4 separate regions of the Homo sapiens genome follow, and regions 2, 3 and 4 are each linked to region 1. Evidence: fine-mapped expression QTL. A gene starts in region 1. Each other region holds a variant in brackets. All regions are shown on one strand. Distances are between the middles of the regions.

Evidence for each region.
Region 2: its variant is fine-mapped to the expression of SLC7A2 in lung (TOPMed, PIP above 0.99).
Region 3: its variant is fine-mapped to the expression of SLC7A2 in tibial nerve (GTEx, PIP above 0.99).
Region 4: its variant is fine-mapped to the expression of SLC7A2 in atrial appendage (GTEx, PIP 0.99).

The regions. Positions count from the first base shown.
Region 1 is chr8:17,493,755-17,501,863 of GRCh38, reverse strand. SLC7A2 (solute carrier family 7 member 2) reads right to left here and starts at 4,776. Exons shown (of 13, transcript NM_001370338.1): 1 at 4,627-4,776.
Region 2 is chr8:17,535,820-17,543,928 of GRCh38, reverse strand. SLC7A2 (solute carrier family 7 member 2) reads right to left here. Exons shown (of 13, transcript NM_001370338.1): 3 at 214-611. The coding sequence starts at 589. Among named protein-coding and RNA genes, the nearest start is that of PDGFRL, 37 kb to the left of the region's middle. RefSeq lists enhancers at 5,750-6,249, 6,250-6,751. The variant G/A (reference allele first, on the strand shown) is at 3,616.
Region 3 is chr8:17,375,802-17,383,910 of GRCh38, reverse strand. All of the region lies in intron 1 of MTMR7 (myotubularin related protein 7), which reads left to right. It overlaps LOC102724838 (a long non-coding RNA gene), which reads right to left. Exons shown (of 4, transcript XR_428318.4): 2 at 3,743-4,094; 3 at 2,388-2,443; 4 at 1,752-1,915. Among named protein-coding and RNA genes, the nearest start is that of MTMR7, 33 kb to the left of the region's middle. The variant T/G (reference allele first, on the strand shown) is at 3,950.
Region 4 is chr8:17,513,773-17,521,881 of GRCh38, reverse strand. All of the region lies in intron 2 of SLC7A2 (solute carrier family 7 member 2), which reads right to left. Among named protein-coding and RNA genes, the nearest start is that of SLC7A2, 21 kb to the right of the region's middle. The variant G/T (reference allele first, on the strand shown) is at 4,223.

The DNA of each region.
Region 1 (8,109 bases):
TCATGGAATGTTCTCGCATCACTCGCCTTCCCGATACTGAATCCCAGATTAGGCTCAGTTCTGTAGAGGGGGGCTAGTACGCAGCAGTGCCAGAATGGGTGTGTGGGTATTGCTTTCATTTTTTTATCTCATTTTACATATTTTATATTTTATGTTTTGCAGGAGGATGGGGATACGGTGAAAAATTAAATTCATGACATTTGCAGCACTAGAATGCTCCAGCTTCATGATTCAGTCTTGGGTGTATAAAGTCCCGTATCAAGAAATTTCAAGATTTTCCACAACACATCACATCCATACACACCCAGAATAACAGGGGACCACATGTCTCTGAAGAGAGAGATTCATACTAAAAGTCTAAATAAAAGTCTAAATAATACTAAAAGTCTAAATAAGAGACGTGACCCACATATTCAAATCCAGCCTCTAAAATAGCCTTATTAACTCAAATCTTCTCTCAAGTCAATACTAATTATACTTACCAGTGAGGTCAGCGTAACAGCAGCAGAGGCCTTTCTCAGAAATATTTAAACTTTAAGAGTCCATAAGAGGCCGAGCACAGTGGCTCAGGCCTGTAATCCCAGGACTTTGGAAAGCCGAGGCAGGCGGATCACTTGAGGCCAGGATTTCGAGACCAACCTGGGCAACATGGTGAAACCCCATCTATACTAAAATTACAAAAAGTAGCCGAACATGGTGGCACACGCCTGTAATCCCAGCTACTCGGGAGGCTGAGGCATGAGAACTGCTTGAACCCACGAGGTGAAAGTTGCAGTGAGCCAAGGTCGCACCACTGCACTCTAGCCTGGGCGTCAGAACGAGACTCTGTCTCAAAACAGAAAAAAAAAAAAAAGTCGATAAGAATGTGAAAAGCAACAGCATACTGCTTGCTTCCATAGACTGATATATAACAGTTTCCATTACTAAGATGGACAAGAAAAATTAATAGGTGATTCATGCTGTGATTACCTTAACTAATTGAAGCCTGATGGAAATGAACTCCTACTTGGCTGGGATTCTGTGTGTGTGTGTGTGTGTGTGTGTGTGTGTGTGTGTGTGTGTGTATGTGTGTGTTGAGACAGAGTCTCGCTCAGTCACCCAGGCTGGAGTGCAGTGGCACGATCTCGGCTCACCGAAACCTCCACCTCCCAGATTCAAGCAATTCTCCTGCCTCAGCTTCCCAAGCAGCTGGGATTACAGGCACCTGCCACCAAACCTGGCTAATTTTTGTATTTTTATTTTTTATTTTACTTTAAGTTCTGGGATACATGGGCAGAACACACAGGTTTGTTACATAGGTATACATGTGCCATGGTGGTTTGCTGCACCTATTAACCCAATTTTTATATTTTTAGTAGAGACGGGGTTTCACCATGTTGGCCAGGCTGGTCTTGAACTTCTGGCCTCAAGTGATCTGCCCGATTTGGCTGCGTTTTGTCAATATCATCCACAACATTTCCATAACCACAAACACCACTTCTAAAACAAGAGCTAGAAAGTCAAGTAAAAGGGAAATATAAGAGGAATGCGGACAAATTTGTTACTACTAGTAAAATAAAAATGTCCAGCACATGTGATTTTGATGATGAAATAGTAGCATCGCCTTCATGTATTAGAGAGAGCATGTAAATTACTTGCTTTGCGGCACAGACAGGTCTGAAATCGTCTGCTTAGAAGTGGTGGTATTTTTTAATAGAGTACAGCAAAATAAAAAACTGCTCTTAAAATCCATCAATGGAGTTCCCCAAATGTAAACATAATTATAGAATCCCTCTAAAACCGGAGTTACACATTACTTTTTTGATTTTCCAGTGTACAGAGTAGAAAGTAAGTTTTCAATGAAGGAATAAATACATTTGAAGACAGATAAAACATCTTTTCTCAAACTGTTGAAATCAGTGGCATTCACTCAACAATAAAGACATATAAGCATGTGTTATGTGACACATACTATATTAGGTACTAAAATGAAAAGTTATTAAAATGGAAGACAATGACAAGAACAATTCCATTAGTTTTCTGTTGTCATTCAAGGTTGTATCTATATGGTTTTTAATATCCAGATTAAAGTTTTAGAAATTAATTAACAGCTTCGATTTTCAAGCCCATTTAGACAAGTGCTATCACTTAAGTGAAATCTTAGTTAACTAAGTTTTTCAGGATTCATTTGGATGACAAAGCATTCAAATGATGCACCCAAAACTAAATATGTGAGTATTTAGAAATATATTCCACTGAAAGCTTTTGCTTTTGTTCTAAATGTTTGGCATCTAGTAGGTAGTCTATAAGAGTCTTTAAAATCAGTGTGTTCATATCTACATGTTTGGGGGAAATAAAGCAAACAGCAACATGAAGGTGCTCCCAAGATTCTGTTCTGAAAGTTGTCCACCAAAGGGCACCAAAGTAAAACCAGCAGATGGCTCTGAACACACAGAGAGAGAAGGGGGGAGAGAGAATGGAGGGAAGAGGGACAGAGAGAGGGAGAGAGAAATGAGGGAGAGAGGGGGAGAGAGAGAGAGAGACAGAGAGAGAGGAAGAGAGAAAGGAGGGAGAAGGAGGGAAAGAGGGGGAAAGAGGGATAGAGAGGGAGGGAGAGAGGGAAAAATAAAACAAGAGAAGACAGAGGCTAGGTGAAATAGAGAAGTTGCCAGAGGACTTCTGGGAAAAAACATTTGAAAAGGAAGGACTGAAAAGAGAAGAAATGGGCACAACGGGGACTCCGGGTCTGGCCATAACAGCCAGGAGAAACAAGGGCTTAAGCCAGGAGGTCTGAAAAGAGAACAGAAGGTAGACCACCTAGAATGGGGACAAGGCACTTCCACTCTGCAAAGGTGAGTGTGCTTGCAGTGCAAAGCAAGAAACGTGAACTTTAAAATTCTTCAGGCACATGTGTTCAAAAGGCAAAGATACATGAGAATGCAAGATGAAAAACTCCAGCGCAAGATCAGGCTTTTTAAACTGCCACAGCTCCCCTGTCTCCCCAGCTAGCTTCTATTCGCCTTCCCAGGCTCCTAAGCCCAGTGACAGGAGAGACTCTGGAATGATCAGAGATTCTGGAATGAAAAGAGCTATGCCCACTGCTTAGGAGGCCAAGGATTCTGCAAACTGATCCCCGCAGATACCACAGCGCTTTACTCTGGTCTCCAAGGCCATGGCACACCCTAAAAGATTAAAATGCCTTAAGGTAAATGACCATTCCCAGATGAAGGCACAGAATGTAAACAAAGTGTGGGCCGAGGGAAGAAACTTGAAAAATCACAATAAAGTGGCCTCCCAGAGCAGGCAACTAGCAACTTTGTAGGAAAAGGAGAGGGAAGAAGTCCTGTGTTCTGCACTGAGAGATCATTTCATGTCACGCTTCAGTGCAATTAAAATAAAAAAGGATTTACTAATTACAAAGCAATCCTAACAAGGTACATAATACAGAATATTCACATCTTATACATCTCCTAGAGAAAGATTACAAACACAGAATGTTTCACCTTCCGGAGGAGATAATTATTAACTTTTAAAGACTAGCTCAGGCAAGAATGAAAAAGTATCAAGTCAAGGCCACATACATTCTAATTTTATAACCCAGGCGGCCCTGGATGGGATTCAGAGAGCTCTTATTTGAATAAGATCTGACGATATCCTCTCATTAAAAGGATTAGTGTTTCTGCACAAACGTCTAGATAAATCTTATTACTGGTCCAAAATTAGTCACCTAAAGGCTTTAGCCAGTTTTGCACAAATATTTACAACTCTGAAGAGGCTGAGTACTTTTTCTCTTGAAATCCAGGCACTATATCCACTTCAAAAGCCACATATGATTGTGGCTTTTGCTGAGCATATTTCTTTTCGACGAGTTGAAGATGACAATCTCTCAATACCTTACTCCATAGACTGGATGTAAGCGTCAAAAGAGGATGAAAAGGTACTTTCTGAACGGACAGGTACTCTGGGGTGATGGGTTGGGAGATTCTCTAAGCCTCAAGAACAGCGTTTCATGAAACGGGCTTATAAAATACAGCCCATCTCAAACGGATTTTAAAAGGCACCCAGTTACTTTAAAATACCCAATACAAACACCAAGACGGGCTATTTTACCAGGTCCCCTGCAGAATGTGAAGGGGCTTCCAGCGCTCCAAGCCGGCTTTCTAATTTAAGCCAAGAACCGAAAAGGAGCGAAGGCGGCTTCGGGGACCCCGGCAGCGTGCAGGGCCAGGAGGTTCAGCCTGCCCACCCGGAGAGGGGTGCGCCGAGCTCCTCTGGAAATAGTGACTGAAGGGTCCCCGCGAAGTCGCCGTGCCAGCCCCTCTCCCAGTTCCAGCGGTCCCCGAAGTCCCCGGGCAGAGCCGGCTGCACAGGGACCGGACGAGGCGAGGCGCATTCCGGGGCGCAGCCCCGAGGACGAAGGTCCACGGCTTCAGCCCCAGCCCACGGCCCCGACTCCCTGACGAAGACTCGCTGGAGCGCGGCCTCAGGGCAGCTGCGCGCAGCTGGACTCGTCCCCGGGAGCCCTCGACCCTCTAGTTCCCCGCCGGCCCCAGGGCGCCCTCGCCCCGCTCCTTCCCCGCCGGCCCCAGCGTCCGGGCTGCCCCTCGCCCGCGGCCTCTCGGCGGGGCTGGAGACCTAGCAACTTACTGGGGCTGGGTTGGGGTCGCGCCAAGAAGGCGGCGGTGGGCTGCCGGCTGCAGCGCGTCGGGGGCCCGCGGCTGGGGGACGCTGGAGCAGCGGCCGCCGCCTCGCTGGTCCCGCGAAGAGGAGCGCCCGCCGGCCGCGCTGCAGAAGGAGGGCTGGGCACGTGGGCGCCCCTCTGTGTAGCCACCCGGGGCGGGGGCGGGGCGCGGGGCCGGGCGGCACCGCCTCCTCCGCGCTCCCGGAACGCGACCCCGAGCCCGCCTCCCGCCGGGCCCCGGCCGCGCTGACCAATCCCCGGGGTGGGCGGTGTGCGGCCGCTGCTCAGCGGGGTTTGCCTGGAGCCGAGCACACGTGGGCGGGCGCTAGCCCCGGGCTAGGCCGGTGGGCGCGGGCCGGGGAAGAGAGGCTGCGCGCGAGGATAAACTTCGTGCTCTCCTGGGAGGACCAAACCTCAAGGGCATTTCCGAATCTTCTAAGCAGAGTTCTAAGTGGGGTTTTGGTCCCCCCGTTTACTTTCCATTCTACAAAGATTTTGGAAATAAGAAAATAATAATAAAATATAATAATAGCAATGATAAATGGAAGCCCAGGTGGATGTGCTTTGTCAAATGCAAACTAAACGTTGATAAATAATGTGCAGTTGCTATTTTGGAAGACTCCAGTGGTATGAATACGTAGTCACGATTGTTTGGGGGTGGGTTTATAGGAAATGACATTATTTCCAGGGGAGCAAGAGCAGAAGTTACACAATCAGGGTTTCTCCTACTGCGCTATTGTTTACTTTAGGAGTCTCTGATAAGATTAAGTCACAATGTGAAAGCCTGTTAATTTTCATCCAAAACGAAGCAAAACACGCACTGAATTGAACAATAAGTGTGTGTCAGTGTGTGTGTGTATATGTGTGTGTGGTTTGTCTTTAGAGACAGGGTCTCACTCTGTCGCCCAGGCTGGAGGGCAGTGACACAATCGTGGCTCACTGCAGCCTCGACCTCCTGGGCTCAAGCTATCCTCCCGCCTCAGCCTCCCAAAGTGCTGACAACTACAGGCTTGAGCCACCAGGCTGAGAATTACAGGCTTGAGCCACCATGCCCGGCCTATTACTATTTTTGTTTGACAGAAAGGTCCACTTTACTTTGCATAGTATTGGAGTAAACGTCCCTTTAACCCACCTACTAGTAATAACTTTGGCAAAGTGCCAGATTTGTATTGCTGCCTCACAGTACATATACAATTTTAATGTGATATTCTAAATCATTCTTCCCTTCAAGACATATATCCCCAAGATCATCTAATAAACGGTGTGGGGCTTCATTCCAGAAGATAGCACACACACAAAATCTCAATGTATCTCAGGAAGCCATCCATGGATTTCATCAAAAAGTGAAAGTGTAGGCTGGGGGTGGTGGCTCACGCCTGTAATCCCAGCACTTTGGGACGCCGAGGCGCGCCGATCACCTGAGGTCAGGAGTTCGAGACCAGTCTGGCCAACAGGGTGAAACTCCGTCTCTACTAAAAATACAAAAATTAGCCGGGCGCGGCGGCGGGCGCCTGTAACCCCAGCTACTCGGGAGGTTGAGGCAGGAGAATCGCTTGAGCCCAGGAGGCGGAGGTTGCAGTGAGCCGAGATAGTGCCACTACAGTCCAGCCTGGGCGACAGAGTGAGATTCCGTCTCAAAAACAAAAGCAAACGAACAAAAAAACTGAAAGTTTAAACAGCACTATGATTACGAAGATATTATCTGATAGACCAAATGTCTTAAGTAATAGAGACTGTCAAAGTAAACTTATTTTTACAGTCAAAAAAAGATTCCTTATGCAAATTATCATTAATAACATTAAGGGAAATGATGCGTGTGGACTTTTAACACCAGATTCCTCCTCAATCCCACGGCTAGGAGGCGTTGTTCAAGGGAGCGATGACTCAGATACTTTGTCTAATTTTTAAGGGTGAGTAATCTGGTCTAACATTTTTCACCTGGTTTAAAAAAAATAGAGATTCCTGGGAGTCGCGGTGGCTCAGGGCGGTTGCCCTGGCACTCGAGGAGGCGAGGCTACACGTTCGAGGCCAACCTGGTCAACATTGATTAAAATAAAGAAAGAAAAAATAAAAAAATAGAGATTCCTATTTTTAAACTTAAGCAATTATTTCCCCACATATTTTTACTTAAAGGCTCTGTGTTTAAATCTGTTTAATTTGTGATTAAGTTACAACACAATGATTTGGGATAAACAAATTTATCTGGAATTTGGAAACTGCCAATTTTGTCAGAATACCGATCTTTGAATTTATCCAATCTGCCCGCCGGCGCACTTCCTGAAGCAAGAACGTGCTGTGTTCATGTGTGTGAATAAGAACAACAACTTCATCTCTAAGCAAAAAAAGAGCAAATTCTTTCAAACAACTTTCTAACAAGATTGCTGAATATCTTTACACACTAGTTCTTGACTTAACATATTCCATTTCGTGTTTGAAATTATTGATTAACCCTGAATCCTGCCTCATAACTTTGGTTATTTCTCACCTTTAAAAATGTGTTTAGATGAGGAAAGAATAGGATGCCCACGGATTTAGTATGAGTCTCTTAAGACAGACTATGAGACAAGAGAAAATAGAATCGAATTTTTAGAAATGAAATATTTGAAACAGGTTAAGCTCTTTTGACTTCATCTTCATTTGCATTTTCTCTTGCTGCCCGGGGTTGAATTAGCATCTTTTTCCCAGTTGAGTAAAATTTGCACCCACCTTCTATTTCACGCTCCCTGGTTTATTGCCATCACTTTTCACTTTCAGCCGTCAAGTTTCCTCCTTAGGAATGAAGCAGAAAATCCAACTTAGTCATTTTCAGCAGAGAGAGTAGCCTAGGTTGTCATCTTCCAAAGATTTCACAAACATTCTTGCATGTCTGAACTCTTAAGGGTTTATGAAATTGCGGGGAATTTTAAGGGACTTTTGTAGCTGAATAAATTCCACACCCTGTACTCCCACACTTGCCAAATACAACCTAAAGTAAATCTCATGTCCACAAATAAGGGATTTACTTCAACTAGCAAGACTGAAGGAATGGATTCTTACTAGTTCTAATTTGTGACTCTATTATTCCCCAAACTATTTTAGCGAAGACAAGCTAAAATCCTCCAATTTTTTTCAGATGGTTGGATACTGGATACTAATGCTTGTGCTGTCACTGAATCAACTCAAAAGGGAAAAAGAGTTGGACCAGAGTCAGAGCACTAGCTATTTGTTTGTTTTTTGAGACGGAGTTTCCCTCTGTCACCAGGCTGGAGTGCAAGGGCACGATCTCAGATCACAGCAACCTCTGCCTCCCGGATTCAAGCGATTCTCCTGCCTCAGCCTCCGGAGTAGCTGAGATTACAGGCGCTCACCACCACGCCTGGCTAATTTTTTTGTATTTTCAGTAGAGACGGGGTTTTACCACGTTGCCCAGGCTGGTCTCAAACTCCTGACGTCAGGTGATCCCGCCCACC
Region 2 (8,109 bases), 42 kb before region 1:
CCACTGCACTTCAAGCCTGGGCGACAGAGTGAGACTGTCTTAAAAAAAACCCACAGAATTTTGTAATTAGAAGGAGACATTTTCGAGATGACAAAAATGAGACACACAGACATCAAGTGATGTACCCAACACCTACAACTGAACCTAAGGGCTGTGACTCAGGGCTGCGATTTCTTCCATTCCACACAAGTTAGATTTCTTTTTGAAACATACCTATCACATACGATAAAATGAGATTCCAGCCAGTGATGAAGGCCCACAGCTCTCCGACAGTCACGTAGGTGTACAAATATGCAGACCCCGTCTTGGGAACACGGGCCCCAAATTCGGCATAGCAGAGGCCAGCCATCACTGAAGCCAGGGCAGCAATGAGGAAGGACACCACGATGCTGGGGCCCGAGTCTGCCTTGGCCACCTCCCCAGCGAGGACATAAACCCCGGCCCCAAGGGTGCTTCCAACGCCCAGGGCAATGAGGTCCATGGTGGATAAGCAGCGGCATAATTTGGTGTCTTCTAGACTGTCCAGGGTCACGATTTTTCTCCGGATCAGACATCGGGCAAAGGTCAGCGCGGCTCTGCAAGGAATCATTCTGACGTCTGACGAAGGCGACCTGAGCAGAAGGGAGGAGGTTAGAAGCTGATCTGGAATTGTCATCCCTCCCTTTGGTAACCTAGCTTCCAGGCACAATTAGAGTATGTGTGTGTGTGTGTTTGTGTGTGTGTGTGTGTGTGTGTGTGTTTCACTTGTTAGAAGAGATGCAGTGACCCAGAGCAGTCAGAAGGAAGGTTTAATAACCAGAGCCTCGAATTTCCTGTAGTTCAATTTCCTGTAGCATACACGTCCCCTTATAAGAGACTGCAATAAATGGCTTATGTGGCAAGCAAAGGAATATAGCAGCCTTGGGTGATTAAAAAGATTTGCCATTCTTGTTTGCATATTATAATTTTGTGTTTCTGTTTTTGTTTGGAAACAGGATCTCACTCTGTCGCCCAGGCTGGAGGGCAGTGGCACAATCTTGGCTCACTGCAGCCTCAACCTCCTGGGCTCAAACAATCCTCCCACCTCAGCCTCCGGAGTAGCTCAACCTCGGGGTTACAGGTGTGAGCCACCATGTCCAAGCTAAAAATTTCCTAAGGATATGTTGATAGAAATATATTTCAAGAGATGGCTAATTTCATTCTCACTACAAGGAAAGGAGTGAATTGCCTCATCTTTTGGGTTCTGTCTCTCTTTACTTCAACCATCCATTTAACTCAGGTTCTTTTTCTTTTTTTTTTGAGACAGGGTCTCACTCTGTCACCCAGGCTGCAGCACAGTGGCGTGATCATAGCTCACTGAAGCCTCAACTTCCTGGGCTCAATCAATCCTCTCGCCTTAGTCTACTGAGTAGCTGGGACCACAGGCATGTGCCACCACGCTCGGGTAACTTCTTTATTTTTCGTAGAGACAGGGTCTCACTATGTTGCCCATGCTGGTCTTGAATTCATGGGCTCACGCAGTCCTACCTCCTTGGCCTCCCAAAGTGCTGGGATTACACGCATGAACCACCATGCCTGGCCCAGATTTTTCAGGCCTTACTAAATACCAGGAATTGTGCTGGGAATATGTGTAGAATGATCTCTTACATAGATGGGGTCTCTAGCCTTACAGGACTTAGCTATCATCTAAAAGCACGTAAAAACTTAATCATTACGTATTCTACAGCTTTATCAAGCATGTGTGAGCTTCTCTGTTTTCATTTTAAACAATGAATGTGAAGCAGATGTGAACTTTTTAGAATTTTTAAAAAATCACCTCTCAAGGCCTGCTGAAATCTAAAAGTGCTATTCAACTATGCTTTAAGTATGAATTTGTACTAAAATACACATGCTTATTATATTTGAGATTTCTAGATAAATAAGTCCAAAGTCCATGCCAAATATTATTCTATGTTCTTTTAAAAATGGAATGAATAAAGTAGACAAAAAGTCACACTCCCCACCTCCTGCAAGCCTAAACAATCTAACACTGAAAAAAAATCAGGTTATAAAACAAGGTGTGAATATTAGTTAAGAAAAAATACATAGGCATATATTACAGTAAAAAGACTTAAAGCAAAACATTCAAAATATCAACAGTAATTATATTTAGATGGTGGGTTCTTCTCTGTATTTCATATGTTACATTGCTAATACCTATTTCTAATTTGTCTCCAATGAATATGTACAACTTATATGCAAAAGAAATATCAAAAATGAAAGAGCTGTACATGGGATTGTCTACCAAAACATATAAGTCAACAGATGAGAAAATAACTGAGGAACATTATCCACACATCAATATAAATATAAATACAAGCTTCCAATAGTGAAAGCAGGTAAGTCAAAGAATATGAAGAAAAGCCTAAGGAGAAATAAAAAATAGAGGACACGTTCCTTGATGATAAAAACAAACTTTCACACATCTTCAGTATCTTCTGTGCCAACCTGACAGAGTGCCAAAGCATGGCACTTCACAAATGCTTATGGGAAAATCTGCAAAGACGTTGACATCTCCAGTTTTGCCCATATTCAGGTTTTCAACGTCAAAACCTATCAATGCTTCCATAAATCAAATGTTTATCAATTTCTACCACTGGCTAACCCTTAAATAGCCCTTTCTCATATATCTAGAAGATAAGTGTTCTGCTTAAAAAGAATTGAGAAGCAAAAAGTTATATAAAAACCAACTGAGGGGGCCAGGAGGGATGGGAAAGGTAGTTACTAAATGCTGAGCTTCTGTAATATTTAAGCATTTTTATACAGAGATGTACAAAGATCAAGGAGTAGGAACCACTGCCAACTGAAAAGTGCTCAGAAACAAAGACCCACTGAAGTTCATTAACGATTTAAGATCACTTGAAAATGAGACATGTCATATACAACTCCGGGAACACAACTGATAAACATACCCATTTGTCATTTAACCAAATAAAACATGCCCATGGTGGAGTACTTAATTAACCTTGACTTTTATGAGAAAAAGATATAAATTCTACGACTATTGCATATTTAAAGAGAAAGGATCTGGAAGGAAGCAAGGAAAACAAAGGACAGATTCGGGGGCTAATAGGATTGTGGGTAAACTTTTTTTAAATCCTTTTTTCCTGGTACTGTGATTATGATGTTATTTGTGAAATTTCTAAAGAAAAAACAGCATAAAAATAAAAGAATAAGCAAGTCGACCAATAAACAAACCTCCTGTGAAAACGTTAAAACAGTAAAAGCTTTTATTATTAAGCTACCCAAAATGAATAAATTAGTGATGGTCATCTCTTCAATACGAAATTGAATTTAATTCACTCCAGATTACACAGGAAGCAGGACTGCTTATAGAAATGCACAGCTTTAATCACATAAGATATGATTTCTACTGCTTCTGTCCTATTTTTTTTTCTTTTTTGGAGGGGTTGGGGGGAGGTCTGTGTAGGCAAATTACTTCTTTCCCATTAAAGATGAAAAGTATTTTATGGGTAGTCAGGTTCTCCATGTTACTCTGGGGAAAAAAGACAAAGATCCCATTTGTCAAGCATTCATTTGCTTTTGAGTAATTAGAAAAACATACGTCAGAAACTTCTCAGAACTGGCAGGTTACTC[G/A]ATGCCCTTTGCAAACAATCTCAACTACGCACAGCCTGGTAAAATACGGATTGCAAAAGCCACAATGCAGAACTAATTTTGTAGGACTATAATGAGATGGGAGAAAAGTAAGGAAAAAACATATTGGGTCAATTTAATGAGTCATTTTTAAACAAACATTTATTGAGTCCTAGCAGGTGTATCATGCAGTGCTTAGCAGATGAAGAAAGTGTATCTCGTACTTTTGTAAAATATGCTTTTGTCGAGACACACTGATATATGAAAGGAGTGTGGCAACAAGAGAATGAGAAAAAAAATTTGTGTCTAATATTAGTGATATAATTTGATATGTACATATCTTTGAAGTTTTTATAACTTTAACATTTTTAAAAAGATAAGCTCCCCATATGAAATGGTTATGACCATCTTACTCTCATTTTTACAGGGGACTTACTGCCCAAGAAAAACATCCCTCCTACTTATACAACAAATACGAATGCAGAGATACAATGCAGGGGTTTTGGAGGTGATTCCATTAATCTGGAGGGCATAGACTTTGTTTTTCCAGGAGCAGATGATCTGCACCATTGTAACCATTGTCAGTTATTGCTACTGTGACCAAGGACTCATATTTAATACGAAACCTACACGCATGTAGTATAAGAACAATGATGCAGATTTTGGGAAGTGGCCCATACAAAACTCACACCCCTGTCCTTGGCCTTAGAATATAAGGCTCTGATCAACATCCCTATGAGGTCACAAGTGATTCTGGCAATACCAGAAACAGATATCTTTCTTCAATAAGCAATTATTTTATTAATTGCTGAGACAGTGGCGTCTCTTGAGGAAGATAAATATGTGCATATTAGCTTAGATCTGAAAATAGAATTAGCGAAGGGAGGGCTGGAAGGAACTAGCAATATGCTGTGCTGCAGAAAAGTCTCTGAATGATTTTCATGAGCCTAATGATACATGTGAGATCTTTCTTAGCCCCACGCCCATTGTGCCCCAAACTTAAGTATAACCATTTCTACGCACCTTATTCCTTGATAAGTCCCTATTAATTCTTGCCAAAAAGCTAAATTCCTTCCTCAGCAACTTGGAATTACCTCCTTCTAAAACTTCTTCAGCCCAGGCCATCAACTTGACAGTATAGAATTTTAGGTCTAGTAAATCCCTAACCCTGATGACATTGACGGAGCAAACTTCCTTTCAACGATTCCAGGAAATCTTTCCAAATCTGCTAATCATAGTCACAAGTTGATCCTGGATTTTCACTTTAGTTCAAAAGTTTGAAGTTGCATTGAGTCACTTAGAAATGAATCTTTCCCTTCCTCCCCTAAGTAAAGGTTGACATTTCAAACTTAATCTTCTATATCAGTATCCCAGGCCCTGACAATAAATCTTACAGGAGAAACTTGCTGTCGCAAACCGGTGGGGCAGGTGTTCCAATAAACCCTCGACAAATTAGTTTGTCTGAGTTATAACCACTTGTTTCTATCTTCATTCCAGTTGCTAGTTTCGTGGTGAGACATCTGCTCTTTCTGTTTTGGGACTGATGGAAAAAAAAGTAATTAAATCGTATAGATAAGTAGGGATCTTTACCATACTGTTTTTGCCCTAGATCTTTTTTATTTTGCAATGTCCAAACCCAACGTTTCTACAATGTTAAAGTTCCAAGATAAATTTTCAAATTATAACGTGGGTTAAATAATTTAGTAAAGAGGAAAAAGATATAGCCATGATACCATGGATTTATTGACTTTTATTCTTTTTGCTAAGTTTTGAGAGATTAATTTCTTTACAAATTCATCAAAAGTATAATGTAGGATAAAAGACTATCACATGTGGTAACTGTTCAGCCTTGATTAGCAAAAACAGAAACCACAAAACTTGGCATTCAGTACTTAAGCCTGAATCTTTCTGGAAAAACACAGAACACTCTTCCATATTCACTTCACTTTTACTGGGTCCAAAACTTATCTTTTCTCCAAATCAAGTCTTCTGAATAATTTCTTCCTCCAGAGTTTTCTCCAGAGAAGTTCGTGCAAGTGTAGACATAGGTAAAAACAAAAAACACAACTGAGGCCACTACAAAGTTACAAGCACTGTAATAAAACCATTGATATTTTCTCCCATTTTATACCAAATCAGTACTGCCAGGAAGTTAGACTAAAAACATAGTATTTCAAATTTTCTGATATAGAATCCAGACATAGGCAAGCATTTTTCCCAAAGACATTCAACAAATAAAGGGCTGATAGAGAATTCTGGGAAGTCTGTAAAGACAGCTGCTGCTTCCAAACATGTGACTCCATTTCACTTTAGTGAAGGCAACATCACAGTGGGAATAAGGCATACCTAGTTAGCTCAAAGAGATGCAGAAAAAAAAATTAAATGAAGCATCCAACTTTTGTGTTTAGGCTTGGGGAACAGAAGAAGCAAAACTTGAAATGAAGAAAGCAAAGCCCTCAGCACCTTGGTAACCGGAGTCCCTGCCCAGTCAGCACACTGCGTTCCCAACCAGAGCTGGGTGTCAGGCTTGGGCACCAGGCAGATGCCCATGCCCGTAGGTCTCCAGCAATCTTTGGCTAGTATGTCACTCTGACTGCCAGTGGGTACAACCTGTTCCCTCTCCCCAAGCTGCTAGGACCTGTCACCTTATATGTGCCTTTGCAAACATGAGGAATGGCCCCTTCCAGAATTTTTTACCTTACCTGGGATCCCGCCACTGCCTCCTGCCCTCCCCACAGCACTGTCTTCATACCCCGAAGCCAAGGATCACTGGACCAGAGAGACATCTGACTCAGGGTTAAACAGTCAAAGGCTGGGAATGCTCAATTAGATGTTCTTGAAGCTCTTACGAACAAAATGATTAGGTCGGTCAAATGGTCTAGTGCAGGCTGAAGTCACACACACTGGGGACCAGCTTGACAAGGTGCAGAAACCCACAGGCTGGCAGTAGAAGCCACACAGGGTGGGCTGGGCACGGTGGCTCATGCCTGTAATCCCAGCACTTTGGGAGGCTTGAGGAGCACTTGAGGTCAGGAGTTTTGAGACCAGCCTGACCAACGTGGTGAAACCCCATCTCTACTAAAAATACAAAAATTAGCCAGGCATGGTGTTACGTGCCTGTAATCCCAGCTACTCGGGAGGCTAAGGCAGGAGAATTGCTTGAACTCAGGAGGCAGAGGTTGCGGTGAGCCAAGATCGTGCCACTGCACTCCAGCCTGGGCAACAGAGCGAGACTCCATCTGAAAATAACTAAATAAATAAAAGAAGCCATACAGTGTTCATTCAGAGGAGGACAGTCTTGTGAAAGGCAGCTGCCCCAGCAGGGAGGCAGGGCAAGAGGAGCCTGGGGAGCTTTTCTGTCCCCCCAGGCCTTGCTGCGCTTCTAACGCTGGGTGTGCAAGATTCCCCGACATGGTTTGGACACACCTCCTGTGCACTTCAGCTATTTAGAGTGGTCTCTGTTCCTTGAAACCAGAAGCTAATGGCGAAGGTCAAGATGGTACTGAGCGGGCCTGCTTCACCCCACTCTACTCCCACTGTCAACTCTTCCAATCTGCTACCTTCAGCCATTTCTGCTACATTTCCTGGGAATTCCTCTTCTTTCCAAAAGGAGGTTTCCGTGATAGAATAACTCTAATTTGTTCACTTTCCAATACCGTACTTAAAGTGTTTAGCCTGCATTAGTTCTGCCCTTTACCCACAGACGTATATACTCTCTCCTTGAAAAAAATAGCTTGACATAAGGTAGAATTGTTTGTTCGTTTGTTTGTTTTGTGGCAGGCTGGAGTGCAGTGGTGCAATCTTGGCTCACTGCAACCTCCGCCTCTCGGGTTCAAGTGATCCTCCTGCCTCAGCCTCCCAAGTAGTTACAGGCACCCGCCACCACATCCAGCTATTTTCTTTTTTGTATTTTTGGTAGAGACAGGTTTTCCCCATGTTGGCCAGGCTGGTTTCGAACTCCTGACCTCAAGTGATCTTCCTTCCTTGGTCTCCCAAAGTGCTGAGGTTACAGGCGTGAACCACTGCACCCGGCCAGAATATCTTTTCTTTTTAGACATACATACAACCAATCTGGATTATCGGTAACATCATTTCTCCCAATGCCCACTGTTGGAATGAGGAGCATGTAAGAGCTAGTCAGGGCCCCAGGAATACCAAGGGCTCTACAGTACTTACTAAAAACATTTAAAACTTTTTTTTTTTTTTTTGTGCCAAGGAATTATGGAAGTAAGCTAGCGGCAGAGCGATAATTCATGTAATGGAGGAAAGGATATCGAGGGAAGCACCGGGAATATTTTACCATACTGGAGAAGGTTTTTTAAGCTTCCTGAATCAGAGAAGTCTCTACAACACTTAAGACTTCAATGTTAGTGGGCTATCTTTTGTTAAAAAATGTAAAAAAAATTTTTGTTTTGAGATGGAGTGTCCCTCTTTCACCCAGGCTGGAGTGCAGTGGCATGATCTCGGCTCACTGCCACCTCCGCCTCCCGGGTTCAA
Region 3 (8,109 bases), 120 kb after region 1:
GGTTAGAAGTGGGGCTTGGTTCCTGCATGGTTCCTCCAAAGCTGCAGGAGGCCTTTGAACCTTTCGATTTGAAACATGCTGGTGCACACTTCAGAGCTCCGCCCAGAGAATCCCTCGACCACCGGGAGAACCGAGTCTTTCGGGGATTTGCCCCTCCAGACAAGAGAAATGAGCAAGCAGGGAGGTCACATGGCCAGCCAAGCTGGTCTGTACCAGATACCAAATCTTTTAGCTGTAGCTAGAGCATTTAACTTGTTAAACATATTCCTCTCTAACTGAAATCTCAGGGACGATGGAGGAGAGACTGTTGAGCCAGGATGTTTTTCCTTCATTTGCAATATTAGACCCAGACTGAAGTGGTCAGGTATGGGAGAGATCCAGGGAAGTGGACACTTCTGGTTTGAAATCTGGCTCTGCCACTTTCTAGATGCGAGGCTTGGGCAGTTGATTGATTTTTCATGCTCTTCATGTCTTTGTCTCAGCTAAGGTTAGAAGTAGCATGTGGATAATACCTAGCACAGTATCTGATGCGCAGTAGTTGTGTGGTCAGTGGTAAAAGTATTTTCGTTGTTGTTATTACCCTTCCTCCTCTTGCTCCCTCTGCTTGAGGGAAGGGTTAAAAGGAACGCACCACAGTTACGCTGCCTCCTTTGCCATAAGCTTTTCTGAAAAATTCATCCTGGATTGCCTGGATTTGGCATCAGCACTTAGTTAAGTAGGGACTGAGAGGGTGGGCACTGTTTAAAGGTAAAACTGATGCCCAGAACCATCCTCCCAACCTTGGTATCTAAGAGCGGCTCCCTTCCCTGGGACCTTCCACACCCCCCAGGTGGTGGATGTGTCTTATCTGAGCTGCCAACAGGCCCTGGGATCCCGGCCCCCCCATATCTCGGAGGAACACCAGCCGCTCTCAAGACATTCTGTCCTGACAGTTTGGTGCCCTGTGAGTGCTTCTTACAGCCAATGCCCTGCACCCTCACTGCATTCTCCTAATCACTGTGCTAATTACTGCACAATGTAATAGAACTACATTAACTGTTGTGTATTTTAAAGTGCAATATTAATGTTCATTTTTGTGCTTGACACCTGCACATTTTGTGGCTCATATAACATTTCTACTCACAGTGGAAGAACATTGAGAAAAAAAGGACTCTGTCTGAATTTTTAGCTTCTCATTACTGTAGTGGTCTCAAATTTTGTTTCTGCACAAGGTCTCCTTATCACTCAGGCACTTTCTGACCAAGGGGTGGGTATTTCATTTGAGACACTAAGATTGTTCTGCATGCCGTGTAGCGTGAATATCAACATTAAAGATTGCAAAAAGAAAAGAAGATGGATGGACGGATGGATGTGCTAAATAGATTTTAAAATAAAGTCAAATGAAAGTCTTTATTTTTGAGTACAGCAAGACGCTTCATCAATTCAGTTTTAAATCCAAATGATACTTAATTATGAGAGACAGAAATAACTCAGGAAATGTTACCAAGTGCTCTAGGGTTTCTAGCCAGTGATTTCCTAACTCCCCAAGAGAAGCAAAAAAGAAGAAGAGCTCGAGATGGGGAAGGAATCTGGAAAATGAAAAAGAGCCACTGTGGCTGGGCAGCTTGTTCCTCCAGGCTGGTGGGCTTGGTGCCCTCGGCCTTGGGATGCTTATCACAGTCCTTTGGGACCAGAACACTGGATATCAGTGCAGCCTCTGGGCCAGCTTCAGAGGCTGTTAGAGCATCATTGCTGCTGTGGCTGATGCTTCCTTTCCTCAGTAAGTCACAAAAGTCGTGTTGGCCATCCAGGTTACCGAGTGACTTAATTTCCAGAAAATTTAATATTGAGTCATTATTGTATGCATTTTCACTGTTGCCATTTTGTATCCTCGTAGGTAGTCTATGAAGTACCACTGGGTCACAGCTGCAGTCTGCTAGAAAGGAGAGAGACATTAAAGACCCTTTAGATCCCTTATAGAAGTCAAAATGCAGGGATAATGTCTAAACTGCCTGCTCCCAGCAGTTCAATTTCAGAACCAGAACCAGAGCCCAGGCCTCTTGACTCACAAATACTTTTCTTTTCATGTTGGTAGAGTTAGAAAATGTCATGATACCAATTTTAGCACAACAAACTATTTATCTAGCTGCTTTTCTTAGATTAGAACATAAACTTGTCTTTGGTTTTGGCTGCTGCAGAGATTTTGATTTCTCTCTGTTAAACAGTCCCTGGATCTCTTCCCCCAGATGACTGACAGTGATCTGGAGCCTGATTTATATGGTTTTGAGGACTTGGTCTTTGGCCTGAGAAAAGCCGGTAGCCAGTGCCACTGCTTTCTGTCCTTTTCAATGACTGGCACCCCGGCCCTGCACTTTGGATTCCTCATCCTACGGAGCAACTTTACTTACCCAAATAGTCTGAGATGATTCTGGAACCCTGAATGTTCAGCACTTCAATATTTGACCTGCAGGATAGAAAGACCCACATTCTACTAAGATTGAAATTCGAAGGTGGCACAATAGAGGATCACTGAAGAAAGGCTCTGACTCTCGGTGATTTATGAGGTCTTCCTGACGCCCAGGCAGTGAAGGGAAGGCCAAGGAGGACCTATGTTGGGCCGCCAGTGTGGCCTCCTCAGACCTGGAAGTGCGGTGGTGGGGCCCAGGGTTTTGACTGAGCGTTTTCAGCCTTGGCCTAGAAAAGATGATGAAACCCTTTTTTCCCCTCAGTCTAACCCCAACAGAGGAAGAACAGGAATTCAAAAAAGCCATTAAACTGGGGCATAGTCTTTTCCATTGAATCTATAAGATTCTTGAAGATAGACAAAGATGCTACCTTGTTCACCCTTTTGCTTTTTTTTGCGGAACCTGACACAGTGCCACACATAGGCATCTTTTTGAATGGAATTAGATGTTTAGTGTTCTGTCTCTTTCATTAGTTCTGAGAATACCCGAAGTCTGCTAGTGTCAATCTTTGGGCTCTTGTATCCATTGCCAAGCTTTTTGTTTTTGGGTTTATCTAAAAGAATAATATTGTGATAGTGGTTTGTGAATATAGTTTTACAGTATAATTTTGTCTTAAAGCATTCTATTTTCAAGTACTAATTTCATGTATAAGATTTCTTACAATAATTATTAACTGTCTATGCTAAACATATTAATTTTGAATAACAATTCTACAATGACCTCAAAGGCATTTACAAGTGCTCACCACAGCCATGGTGAAGGATGAACGTGGCTTTGAAGTTAGACAGACCTTAGCTCTAGCACGGGTGTCCTGCCCTTTGAATTTGAGGATGTTTTTGCCTGTCTGTGGTGGTGGATATCATGAAAATTATGCATGGTCCTTTTTTTTTTTTTAAGCTCATCAGCTGTTGTTAGTGTATTTTACGTGTGTGGTATGGCCCAATACAGTTCGTCTTCTTCCAGTGTGGCTCAGGGAAGCCGAAAGGTTGGAGACCCATGCTGGCCGGGCCACGCCACCTGTTCCCTGCAGGATCTGGGAAAGTTTGTCAAGTCTCAAGTTCAACAGAACTATGAAATGGGGATTATGCAAGAACCTATAATTCAGGGGGTTACTGTGGGGATTAACTTGAGCTCAGGTATATAGAGTGATTGTGCAGTGCATGGATGTCGAATATCAAAAAATATTTGTTATTGTTTTTATTGTTATTTGGTGATTTTTCATAAACAAACTGACAACTGGGGTTGGCCTGATTCATGAGATATTGGTGGAGTTCTTTGAAATGCCCCAGTTCTCTTACCTTCAGAAGTCCAAAGCTTTCCACAGAATTTCTGCCAGTTCCCATGGAGGTTTGCATTTTCACAGTCCCTTCTGGCATAATCATTTGCTGCTGAATTAGTTCACGTTGCAGATCGACTCACCATCCGTTTATGTGTCATTGTCTTGTGGCACAGCTCTTCCTTAATTACCTAGCTCTTCCTTAATTACTCTCCCCTCCTCCAAACCC[T/G]CAGTGCGTTATGGTATATAGCCAACTGTTCTGAAGATTTTGGCAAAGGAAGGGTTGATACTGCAATGAAACGGTGCCTTCAGACAGTTTAGATTAGATTTGTTCACTCCATCCCTGGAGATTATTTCCTGTGGTGCTTCACTACCTAATTAAAAAAACAAAAACAAAAACAAACAATCAAAAAACCCCAAAAACACTTAACATGAGGTATAGGCATTTTTCCCAAAAGACTAACAGTGCTTGTGTTGGATTATGGTCCTAGGGGTGATTTTCTTCTCTTCCTGTTATATTTCCAAATCTTTAAACATTAAGTAAATAAGTACATGTTTCCTAGTTTTAAAAAGGCAAGTTCTAAAAGCTGGGGGCGAAAGTTTGTTAGGATTGGAGAAGCAATACAAGCAGGATAAACAAATCTTTGCTCAGCGATCCCCATCTCCTTCTAATCCTTTAAAATGTATTTCTCAATCCGGCCTAATGGAGTCATTTTATTTCCCGTGTGTATCACAAGTGCAGATGCCCCGGTTGGTAGCACTAACAGGCATCTTTCCTTCAAATGTCTTGACGTGCCAGTTGCTTCTGAAAAGCTAACGTGGCTCTTGCTGCTCCGGGGTGGAGTTCGCGTGGTCAGACTATCTGCTTCTGCCCGCTCAAACCCCACTTTGGCAAAGAGTGGTATCTACTTTCTCAGTGCCTGGGAGTTGACACCTCAAGCTGCTCTTTCATGGGTTATGATCCTCATGCTTCCAGGACCCCTCCTGCTAAGACCACCAGTGCCCCCATGTTCCTGAATGTAGTGGGCCACTTACAGTTCTTGCCTTACTCCATCTCAGCAGCATTTGACATAGACACTCCCTCTCTCTTAAAATATTATCTCTGCTATCCTCTTGATAGCAGAATCTCCTGATTGTCCTCCTGCCTGTCCATTTCTTTGTTTCTGTGCTTTTCTGATTCCTCTTCTTCATGTAGACCTTTAAACATTGGGCTTTCCTCAGATCTCTTCTCACTCTGCCTGCTCGCCCTGGGTAACCTTTTTTAGTCCCATGGCTTCAATTATTATCTTTTATGTGCTAAAGACTAAATTTATCACATTTCAACAAATCTAAGACATCAGTGATGCTAAGAGGCAGCAAGATTTTATGAACCACAAAAGAAGAAAGAAGCACTGCCAATGAAATGACACAATAGCTTTTTACACATCAGTCATCAGATGTGTCCCATTTTTAGAAATACCAGAATGTAAAAAATGTACATCCAAGAATTAATAATATAGTGTAATATCTTTTGCATAGATTTCCATAGCCTTTTTCAGAGTATGAATACCTCGTATGTCTTAAGCATAGTGCTCCTGGGAGCAGGCAAATGAGTTGCAACAATTTTGTTTTGAGAAGCTGGTTGTTTCCTTAGTCTTAGCTCTCCCTAAGTATAAAACTGGCCTTATTACTTTGTAGTATGTACAGCATATATGTATAGATGAGACAGAATTAAGTTAGCCCAACAGTAAGGCTGAATTACTGAGTCAGTGGGTCTTCAAGATGGTGCCCAAACTCTGAAATTTATTTCATTTTAGATCGTTTTCAACGTCTTAGTATAAACTGTGAGGTGGTCCCTGAACAGTGCTTTCTGACTTCATAACGTTTCTAAGACAACTGAATTTTAATTTTTATAATTCATTTTTAATTGTTAGTATCTCTGGGAAATCATACTGTTGGTGTTCCCCTCCTTATTTCTTTTTTCCCTCTCTGTATCTTCAAAATTACTTTTGACAGCTCTGGGACCTGTAGGAACTATTGCCAAATTTTGGAATGTGACTTTCCTGCAGCAGCATCCAAAGTTAACAAAAAGACATGGAAAAATCCCATCTCAATGGTAGTATTCTAATCTCTCAACATCTGCATACCTTATTCTGCTCCACTGAGCTTTTCTAAAAATAATTTAAGTGATACAGCTTCCTCTACTTCTGTAGGGAGAATAATCCATATCAAATATTTTTGCCTCAAAGTATTATCTTATGCTCAATATGATTATCTCAATAAAGTTTCTATCCCCTTATTTTTCTCCTCCCATACTTTCATAATATCTTTATCGTAGTTACTTTAAAATAGAATGTTTAATGACAAAAGTTTAAGTAAAATATCCCAACCATATGAGAATTTGGAAAATGCTTCCCTTAAAAACTTTCAGGTCAAAGAAGAAATAAAAAGTGCAATTATAGACCATCTAGAAAGAAGAATGAGGATACTATGAATAATATTCACAGGATAAAACCTGAGATATACTTGGAGGAAAATGATTGAATTTAAAAACTTTTGTTATTAAACAAAAAGAATGACAGTTAACAAACTGACTGTGAAATCTGAAAATTTAGAAACAGACAGACAAAAACCACATGGCATGCCCAAGCAAAGCAAGTTAAAACATTTATTAAGGAACCAGAAATTAACAAAGTAGAAAAGAAAAATAAAGTTGATATATCCAACACCTGTTACTTTAAAGAAAAACCTTTGCCTGTCTAATCACAAAGAGGTAAAAAGAAAACAATTCACAGTATTAGGAATGAGGGAAGGGATAAGAAGAGAGGGGTTTACCCACAGATAAGAATTAAAAGATTGTAAAAATTTGAAAATCTGCAGTAAGATAATTTGTAAAGGTATTATAATATTAAAATGGGATTTAGTAAAAATTGGAAACAGTGAACGGATCTGTAACCACATAAGAAGTTGAAACCATTACTAAAGATTTCTGTGTAAAGAAGTACTATACTTGTTTCAACTAATAAATACTTTGTATGTTGAAAGCTTCCTGATTAATTGATGTAATCATAACCATGGTTAATTCACTTGATAACAGCAGCATGAATAGGCTAGGGCATGGAGGTTCTCTCTTAAAAGTATAGATGCAAAAGAAAAAAAACAAATCAAAATAACAATTATGGCGGGAAAAATACAAGGAATTAAAATATCAATATATAATGACTGTGTATGAATTACGTAGTCGTGATTTCAAGTTGGCCATATAGCAGGAACACAAGACTCCTTTAAAGATTAGGAAATCTATTACTATTATTGATAATTTAGGGCTAGAGTTAAAAAAACAAATATTTATCCAAATACATATCAAAAAGGCATAACTTTCACTTCTGATTTTAAAAAATCAAAACTCTTAGTAAACTAGGATTAGGTCACTTTCACGATGCGATAATAAATATCAGCATGAAACTCAATGGTAAAAGATAATAAGTGTTCCATTAAAAATGGGTGCACATAAAGAGATGCTCAATATTGTTAGCTATCAGGGAAGTGCAAATCAAAACCACAATGAGATCGCATATTAGGATGACTATAATCAAAAAAAGAGATTATAATAAGTGTTATCAAGGATGTGGAGAAGTTGGAACCCTTGTATATTGGTGGTAGGAATATTAAATGGCACAGCTGCTTTGGAAAATAGTCCAGAAGCTCTTCAAAAGCCTTACTATATGACTTACCAAATGACCCAGCAATTCTGCTCCTAAGTATAGCCAAGATAAATGAAAGCATATGTCCATACAAAAACTTATGCTCAAAAGTACATAGCAGCATTATTCCTGGTAGTCAAAAGGTAGATGCAACTGAAATGTCTATCAACTGATGAATTGGTAAATGAAATATGATATGTCCCTATAATGGTATATCATGGGGCAACAAAAAGTAAAGCACTGGTACATTCTATGAATAGATGAACTTGGATTGAAACGTAGATTGAGAACATGATTGCTAAGTGAAAGAAACCACTATCAAAGTATGACATGTTGTATGATTCTGTTTATACAAAATGTTCAGAATAGGCAAATCTATAGAGACAGAGGGTAAATTGATTTTTTTAGGGCCGGAGTGGTTGGGGGAATAACTGGGATGTGACTGGTAGTGGGTGCAGGATTTCTTTTTGCGGTGATGAAAATGTTTTAAAATAGTGCGTTAATGTTTGCACAGTGGCAGTGTATACAGTGTTGTGAATGTGCTAAAAACCATTGAATAGTACATTTAAATGGGTGAACCGTATGGTATATGAGTTATATCTCAACAGAGCTGTCATTCAACAAAGGAAAAACAATGCAAGAGTGACTGTAGTCTCCATGCTATTTATAGTTACTCTGAAGTTTCTAATTAATGCTATTATACAAG
Region 4 (8,109 bases), 20 kb before region 1:
GGCTTGACAGAAAACTTTAAACAGGGAAACAAGGGCATGAAGAAACTTGCTTCCACATTTGGGTTTGATTTCTTCCTTTTGCAGCTGGCTGTATGCTAGCAATGCATAATTCTGGGCACGGACACAAGACCTGGGTTTTCAAGGCTTCGGCTCTTGAGATTTCCTCCTTGGCCAAGCATACCGCAGCACCCCATGCTAATGAGAGGCTTGCTGCCAGAAAGCTGAAAAGAGGCCACAGCCCAGCGCCACGTCTCCCTGTGAAGAGTCCCTGTCTCTGGGGCTACTGGCTCCTGCCACGGCTGTCTTCACTGGGTGGTCTGATCCAGGATGGAATTCCAGAAGCACTTGATGGATGGCAGACAGGGATGAGTGTGAATGAAACATCAGAACTCCCTCAGTGTAATTCCTTAACCAAGACGTTTACAGAAATTAATGAGACAGACAGTGTGCCTAGAATTAAGTATCAAGGAAATATCAGAATCCTGCCAAATTCATCTGACGTAAATTCTTACAATCCTACACTCTGTCCTCTTGCCACCAATTCCGAAGAACCAACATAGGCCATTTACGAGGTTTTTTGTCTGTGGGGAAAACACAAAGTATACCAAGCATTGCCTAAGCTCTACAAGTATTTCCCTTCATTTTGTTGAAATATAAACATTTATTTGACCTCCCTCTATCAAAATATACAATTTCATATTTTAAATGTATTCTTTTTAGAAAGCAAGTATCCTAAAATGGCTCAAGGACTACCAAAAAAAATAGTAGAAGAAAATGTAGTTACCTTACATATATTAGCCTAATCAATAATACCAACAAATCAGCAAGAGTAACTATCATTATGGTACTATGTGTTTTCTTTCTAAAGGAAATCTCATCTAAAAAATACTAAGCCTGAAACAGGCTTATATAAGGTCATTTCCGTAACATGTATCTTAGCTGTAGGTTAAAAATCTAAATAACTTTAAAGCAATTAACAGAACTGATTTGCTTTTAAGACACTTAAATATCTTTTTTCTTCAGTATTGTGTGGTCACAAATCAATACTGGAGTACAAAATAAACATGCTGCTCTATTTAAAAATATCCTCTGCTTAAGCTCATCTCTACTTACAGATACCCTTTTATTCCTCTCAAGGTCCTTCTCATCTCCCATCTCCTCCTTGAAACTTTTTTGTAATGAAAGTAAATTTCTGTTTGGAAAAGTACTCCTTTTTTTTTTTTTTTTTTTTTTTTTTTTTAAAGACAGAGTCTCACTCTGTTGCCCAGGCTGGAGTGCAGTGGTGTCATCTCGGCTCACTGCAACCTTCACCTCCCAGGTTCAAGCAATTCTCGTGCCTCAATCTCCCAAGTGGCTGGGATTACAGACGTGTGCCACCACACTCGGCTAATTTTTGTATTTTTAGTAGAAATGCGGTTTCACCATGCTGGCCAGGCTGGTCTCAAATTCCCAACCTCGGGTGATCCGCCCACCTCGGCCTCCCAAAGTGCTGAGATTACAGGCATGAGCCACTGCACCCAGCCATGATATTTTTTATAAAAGGATGTGTGCGTGTGTGTGCATTTTATGTATATATACACATACACCACATACACAAATATTCTCATGAACCCCTATGCTTCAGATAACTGTCTTAAAATATAGTTGGAACATATGTCACAATAAAAAAGTTTCTCCCTTTAATAATTCTTTCCTAAAACATGTTTGCAATTGGTTACACATAACCTATGTTTCAAGATTTAAGATGCTTTTATCACTTATTGAAATCTCAAAATGCCCCAAATTCTACAATCAGTACCAAACAGCATTCAAAACTAACTATAATATAGCTTTAACATATATGTTTCACTCTGATCATCACTAATTCTTTCTCACAGAAAACTCTTCTTTTCCCAAGTCATTGTTGGGGAATAAGATGTTTCAATCAATCAGATGGTCTACTGGTAGACAACAAAAATGAATCCATTCCCAGGGTTCACAGAAGAAGAAGCAGGGTGCTCTCCTTGGATCACTCTAGAAGGTTTTATGGAGGAGACATCATAAAGAATATTTTAGGCAATCAGAAGTCTGCTTGGCAAGATGAATGTGAATATTTAGGAACCTGGCCACCTTTATTCAGAAGCCCCAAAGAAACTTTCATCCTCTTTAGGTAAGTGACCCTGAAGTAAACAAAGGAGATGATGATATGGCATGGAGAAAAGTTAGAGAAAAAGTGTGAAGGGTTTGAAGCAAAGACTAGGGAGCCACAGGCAATGAGAAACAAGCACCTAACTATATGGCAAGGTCATAGTGAAAAGAACCCAATACTCCACAGCCTCAGTGAAGGCTGACCCGGAGGGACAGGGCCAAAGGGAACAGGATTCAGATACAGGAAGCTCACAATTAGCCTAGGAAGAGAAAATGGCGACAGAAATATGGACGAAGATAGAGATTCTCATCACTGTTGCTTAAAAAGAATTCAATCATCAATTTATAATTTCAGAAGAGTTCTGATAAGTTCCTGGAATGAGACATGCTCCTAAAATATACTACCATCACTATAACTTACTTCTGCTGCTACTACTGAGAGCTAACATTTATCAAGCACGTACTATGTTTTAGGAACTAGGCTAAGTGTATTACATATATAAACCTAACTGAATTACCTATCAACCCTATGAGGTAAGTGCTTTTATTATCTCTAGTTTATAGGTGAGAAAACCAATGCTTAAAGAGGTTAAGTACTAGCTGCTTGTTACAAACAAAATATTTGTGTTCCCCCAAAATTCCTATGAAGTTCTGACCTGCAATGTGATAGTATTTGGAGGTAGGGCCTTTAGAAGGTAATTAGGGCTAGATGAGATCATGTGGGTGGGGCACCCATGATGGAATTAGTGTCCTTATAAAAAGAGGAAGAGCTGGTGTTCTCTCTCTACCAACTGAGGACACAGGGAGAAGGCTGCCGTCTGCAGGCCAGGAAAAGAGCCCTCCCCAGAGCTCAACCATGCTGGCACCATAATCTCAACTCCTAGCCTCCAGAAGTATGAAAAATAAATGTCTGTTGTTTAAGCCCCCAGTCTATGGTATTTTACTATGACAGCTCAAGCAGACTAAGATGCTAGTACAGATCAATGTCAGGACAATGTCAGACAAAATCAAGTCTGTCTGACTCTCCATAAATGAATATAATATAATGATTAGCATTTCAGAAGCAATGTAATGAAGCTTTGCAATTAAAAAATAAAGCTTCTTTGTTTGTCTTTTGCTAATGGTTTTGTTTTGTTGTGGCCACTGAAGTTTCTGATTAGTTTGCACCATCTAAAGAGACAAACACGAAGTTTACATTTTTCCAGAGCTCAGAATTTCCCATGATGAACACTAGGCTGAGGAAGGAGAGTGCTCTGATGAGCAAAGTGTTAACTGCCACATCCCAGAAAGTGAAGCACAGGCAGCTCCTACCAATAAATAGTCCAGTTATGAAGTACACATTCTAAACTGAGATGAAACACTATTCCAGAATATGCCTTAAGGAAAGAAACTTGTCACCACGGCTTGGTGAAAAGCCAATGTTAGCTGATGATGACATCATCTAGCTTAATATAGCACACTGAAGAGAAACTCAGAATCGATGGAGTTGCAGAATATTGTTTCCTTTACTTTTGGATGTTGTGCAAAAAAAAAAAAGAAAGAAAAGAAAAATGAATAAATATTTGAGACTATCATATGGGGAGAAAAAGTAATTCAAAGGAAAGGGGATTCCATTTTTAAGCAAGGCCACTGTACCCCAGACTTTGATATATAAAAATAAAAATTAATAATAGAGACGATTCATTGCTTTCCTATTATGTCTTGGGCTCTTGACTTACTTTATTTAACCCTCACAACCACCTCAGGAGAAATGTCCTATCTTTGCATGATGAAACTAAGGCTCAGAGATGTTAAGAAACTTTTCAAAGTCACAGAGCTGGATTTGAACCTAAGGTCTGTGTGGCTCCAAACTCCATGCCCTCTCTTCCATGCTGCATAACCCAGAAGCAGTGAGAAACAGAATGCTAGCAGTTCCCAGGCTCTCGGCAGCCCCCTAACACTCCGCTGATGAAAGAAAATTTGAAGGTCATCAAGATGTTACCAAAAATATATTTGAAAGACTTCAGAATTGTAAAACTTCATCTCCAATAGATTTTAACTTTTCAAATTCATGAACTATTACTGCCTTAAAACTGAAAATGTAATAGTTATTAAA[G/T]GTAAGCAATACGGGAAAATCAATGTTTAAGAACAAAGAAAGATACTAGATAAGCATCAGGACTTAAGTCTGTATTAAAAATTCCAACACACATTAAAACTTATACCTCTAAGCTAGAAAAATCTCCCATGATTTAATAGAAGAAGGTTACCTACAATAAGCAGCTGAAGATTTTCACGGCCTTCACCAAAACATGTAACATTTTCTAGTACACTTGTGTGCATTTTACAATTTATCCAGTTCATTTCTAACCCATCTCTGGGCTTCTCAATCTCTAATATTCTTGATTCTCTTCATATTCTTGAATTCAAAACACATTTCAGAACAAGCAAAGTCTTCTGGCCCTACAAATCACATCTTTTGTGGTTTCATTTTGCCTGGATTTTATTTCGAATGACCTCTGATAATATCAGGAACCTCTTCCTTCTATTGCCAAGTTTTTGTTTGGTCTCATTTTGTGCCTAGAAATAAATGAGTATAAGTCAGTTAAAGTCAACATTATTTTCTTAATCCATGCAAGGAATGTGTGTTTAAAGTGATGCAAAGGGGGAGTGAGCAGAGATATTGGATCCATATTTAATACATCATTTGAACTTTTCGTATAGAATTCCCACCTTAATGCCTTAACAGCACAAGCCTGCTTCTGCAACTTTTCTGTCCCCTATTTCAAAGTCCTCTTCAGTGTTGATTGTGGGGACAGGGACTAAGCCACAACATGAACCCTCAGTGTACCATGCATGAAGACAGGGATTTGTTTGACTGCTCTGTTCACTGGTTTATCCCAAATACCTAGAGTGCTTGGCACATGGCAGATACTCAAATATTTCCTGAATCAATGGATACTTGGCATCCATGTTTTTCTTGAATGCTTAAACCATCTTTTTCTTAAGTGCTGACCAGTTAAGTTCAGTGAAGAGTCAACTGGATGGGGTGAGGGGTCTGGGAGACCATGTCATCACTTAAAGAGCAATGAAAGAAACTGCAGGTGTTCAGGTACAATAAGCAAGGGTACAGCTGTGGCCCAAAGAGGGAAGAAGCCCTGAGCTAGCTAATAATCTCTACGAGTTACCACCCATGTGTCTTTGGACAAGTCACTGGCATCTCGGTCTTCTCATCTTTAAAACAGACAACACATAGGCCAGGTGCGGTGGCTCACGCCTGTCATCCCAGCTCTTTGGGTGGCCAAGGTGGGTGCATCACCTGAGGTCAGGAGCTTGACAACAGCCTGGCCAACATGGCAAAACCCTGTCTCTGCTAAAAGTACAAAAATTAGCCGGGTGTGGTGGTGCACCTGTAATCCCAGCTACTTGGGAGGCTGAGGCAGGATAATCGCTTGAGACTGGAAGGCGGAGGTTGCAGTGAGCCGAGATCTTGCCACTGCACTCCAGCCTGGGCGACAGAGCGAGATTCCATCTCAAAAAAAAAATTAATTAATTAATTAATTAAATAAATAAAATAAAACAGTTATAGAACTATCGTAAGGAGTAAGTGGACAAGCAAAGTGTCTGACAAATAGCAAAAAGTTTTAGAATCACGAATAGGTATTATTGCTATATTTAGTTTCTTTTCATTCTTAGGGAAAAAGACATAGAAAAGAGATGATAACTTTCTTTAAATACATGAATGGCAAGATGTAGGAAGGCAATGATCCTATGTATTTACTTCAGAAGACAGAACTACTAATAAAGGATATCATATAAAAAGAGTAAGGCATTGATCCAATAAAATGCAAATCTCCCTAATAAAAAGTGTTCCTACCCATAAGAAGCTGCCACCACTAAAGCTATCAGATGTCTGTCATTACTTAAAACAGAGGACAGTTGATTGAGGAATTTTGTGGAACAGTTTTAGTTAGAAGGGTATTAGACAAGGTTATCTGCCAACTCAGATTCTAAGATTTAATGATAGGATTTTTATTTTGTGGCTGAAAAGTAAGGCTTAGCCCATGGTTCTCTGTACTGTATAAACCAATAGTCAGATATGGGTAGGTACATTACAGCAAAGCACACATTGCCAAAAACCCGCCACCCCACTCAACATCCCCATCCTTCAGAAAAATGGCAATCAGGCAGGGCACAGTGGCTCACGCCTGTAATCCCAGCAGTATGGGAGGTCAGGCAGGCAGATCACGAGGTCAGGAGATCAAAACCATCCTGGCCAACATGGTGAAACCCCATCTCTACTAAAAATACAAAAATTAGCTGGGTGTGGTGGCATGTGCCTGTAATCCCAGCTACTCAGGAGGCTGAGGCAGGAGAATCGCTTGAACCTGGGAGGTGGAGGTTGCAGTGAGCCGAGATTGCGACACTGCACTCCAGTCTGGAGACAGGGCAAGACTCCATCTTAAAAAAAAAAAAAAAGAAAAAGATGTGGCAATCAAAGGCAATCAAATAAATTCACAGGGACTAAAAAATTAAAAACCACAAGCTATGTCCTCATTATTGATGACTTTGGAAAAGTACCGGGTGTATCACACCATTACATACTGACTATTTAGATCAAATAAATATTGAGTTGGTAAACGTTTCTTAAGTTTAAAGGTTCATCTGATGCAACAAATCTTTTTTCAGTGTTAGCAACTATAAAGTCCCTCCCCTTTTCCTGGTACCCTTGCATGGAATATTTAATTCAGCATAGTAGGCACTGCCTTTACCAATATAGCTCTACCCATGTATGTACTCATTACATAAAACAATTTCCTACAAGATCAGAAATGAAACGCTGTTTTATCCACTTGGCCCAGACAATAACAGTATCAAATACCAGAAATATTCATATTCTAAACTAAGAGAAGATTTTATCTTTCTCATTTCAGTAAAACTTATCACAGGGTCTCCACTGCCTTTATGCTCATTACTGCTATGATTCTGAGACTTCAGGTAGTTGTAACTCATAAACTTGAACAAGTAGAATCTGCTTAGGAATGAGGCCTTTATTGAACATTTCTATAAGACATCATCTTTGGCTGAATCAAATGATAGTAAAGCTAGCCTAAGAAATGACTGTGGAATCTAAGAAGCAAGGCAAGGACCTTCTACCAAGCAAAATTGAGTTTCTGTGCTACTCAGAACAGCTATAAAAGGGAAACCTGAACAACTTACATTTTTAAGTTATTCTAGAATTAGCTTCCAGGGTCAACCTCCACCAACGGCTGCTGTGCATTTCCCCATCTCTTTCTTTCTAGATATATTTTTGAGAAGGGAAAATATTGCATTATATGCCATTGTATTCTCACGTATTTAAAGAAATCTAAAATAAAAACACGGGTTTTCTGGGCTCATTCTACTTCTATTCTTCCCACAATGTCAGGGACTCTGCAGGGTTCTCTATAAATGTTGGATCAATCACTGCTCCCAACTCAAATGCGTGTTTTGGGACACACTGTATTTTTTTTTTAATTGATTCCTCTTTGGTTTAACACAGTTTGCCACCACCCCTTTCTATTTTGCACTAGCCTGTTTCATTCATGTCTGTTACTTACCTGGATCCAGGGAATTGGGATGAAATTGCTGAGAGACTCTGTGGGGTCAAGGAAGCCTCACTAATGTGCCGAGGTGTTTTTACTCCCAATAAGGGCTGACCATATACCCTTGTAGAGAAGAACTAAGACTATTACGGGTCAGTGATATTTACATGCTATTTGCAGTTCAAATTTACCCAGATTATTTTTAAATCCCTGCCATTATACACATGAATATAGAATATAACTGATCCTCAGAATAAATAGAACTTGATTGCTACTTTTTTAGAGGTAGAAATGTTGAGCAGGATGACAGGTTTTTGGCAATATGTGCTCTGGTGTAATCCACTTACCTATAACTTAATCTGAGAATGAACGAAACTTTCCCTCTTAGCGCTGTTGTAAGTGGGACAAAAAGTCAATTTTG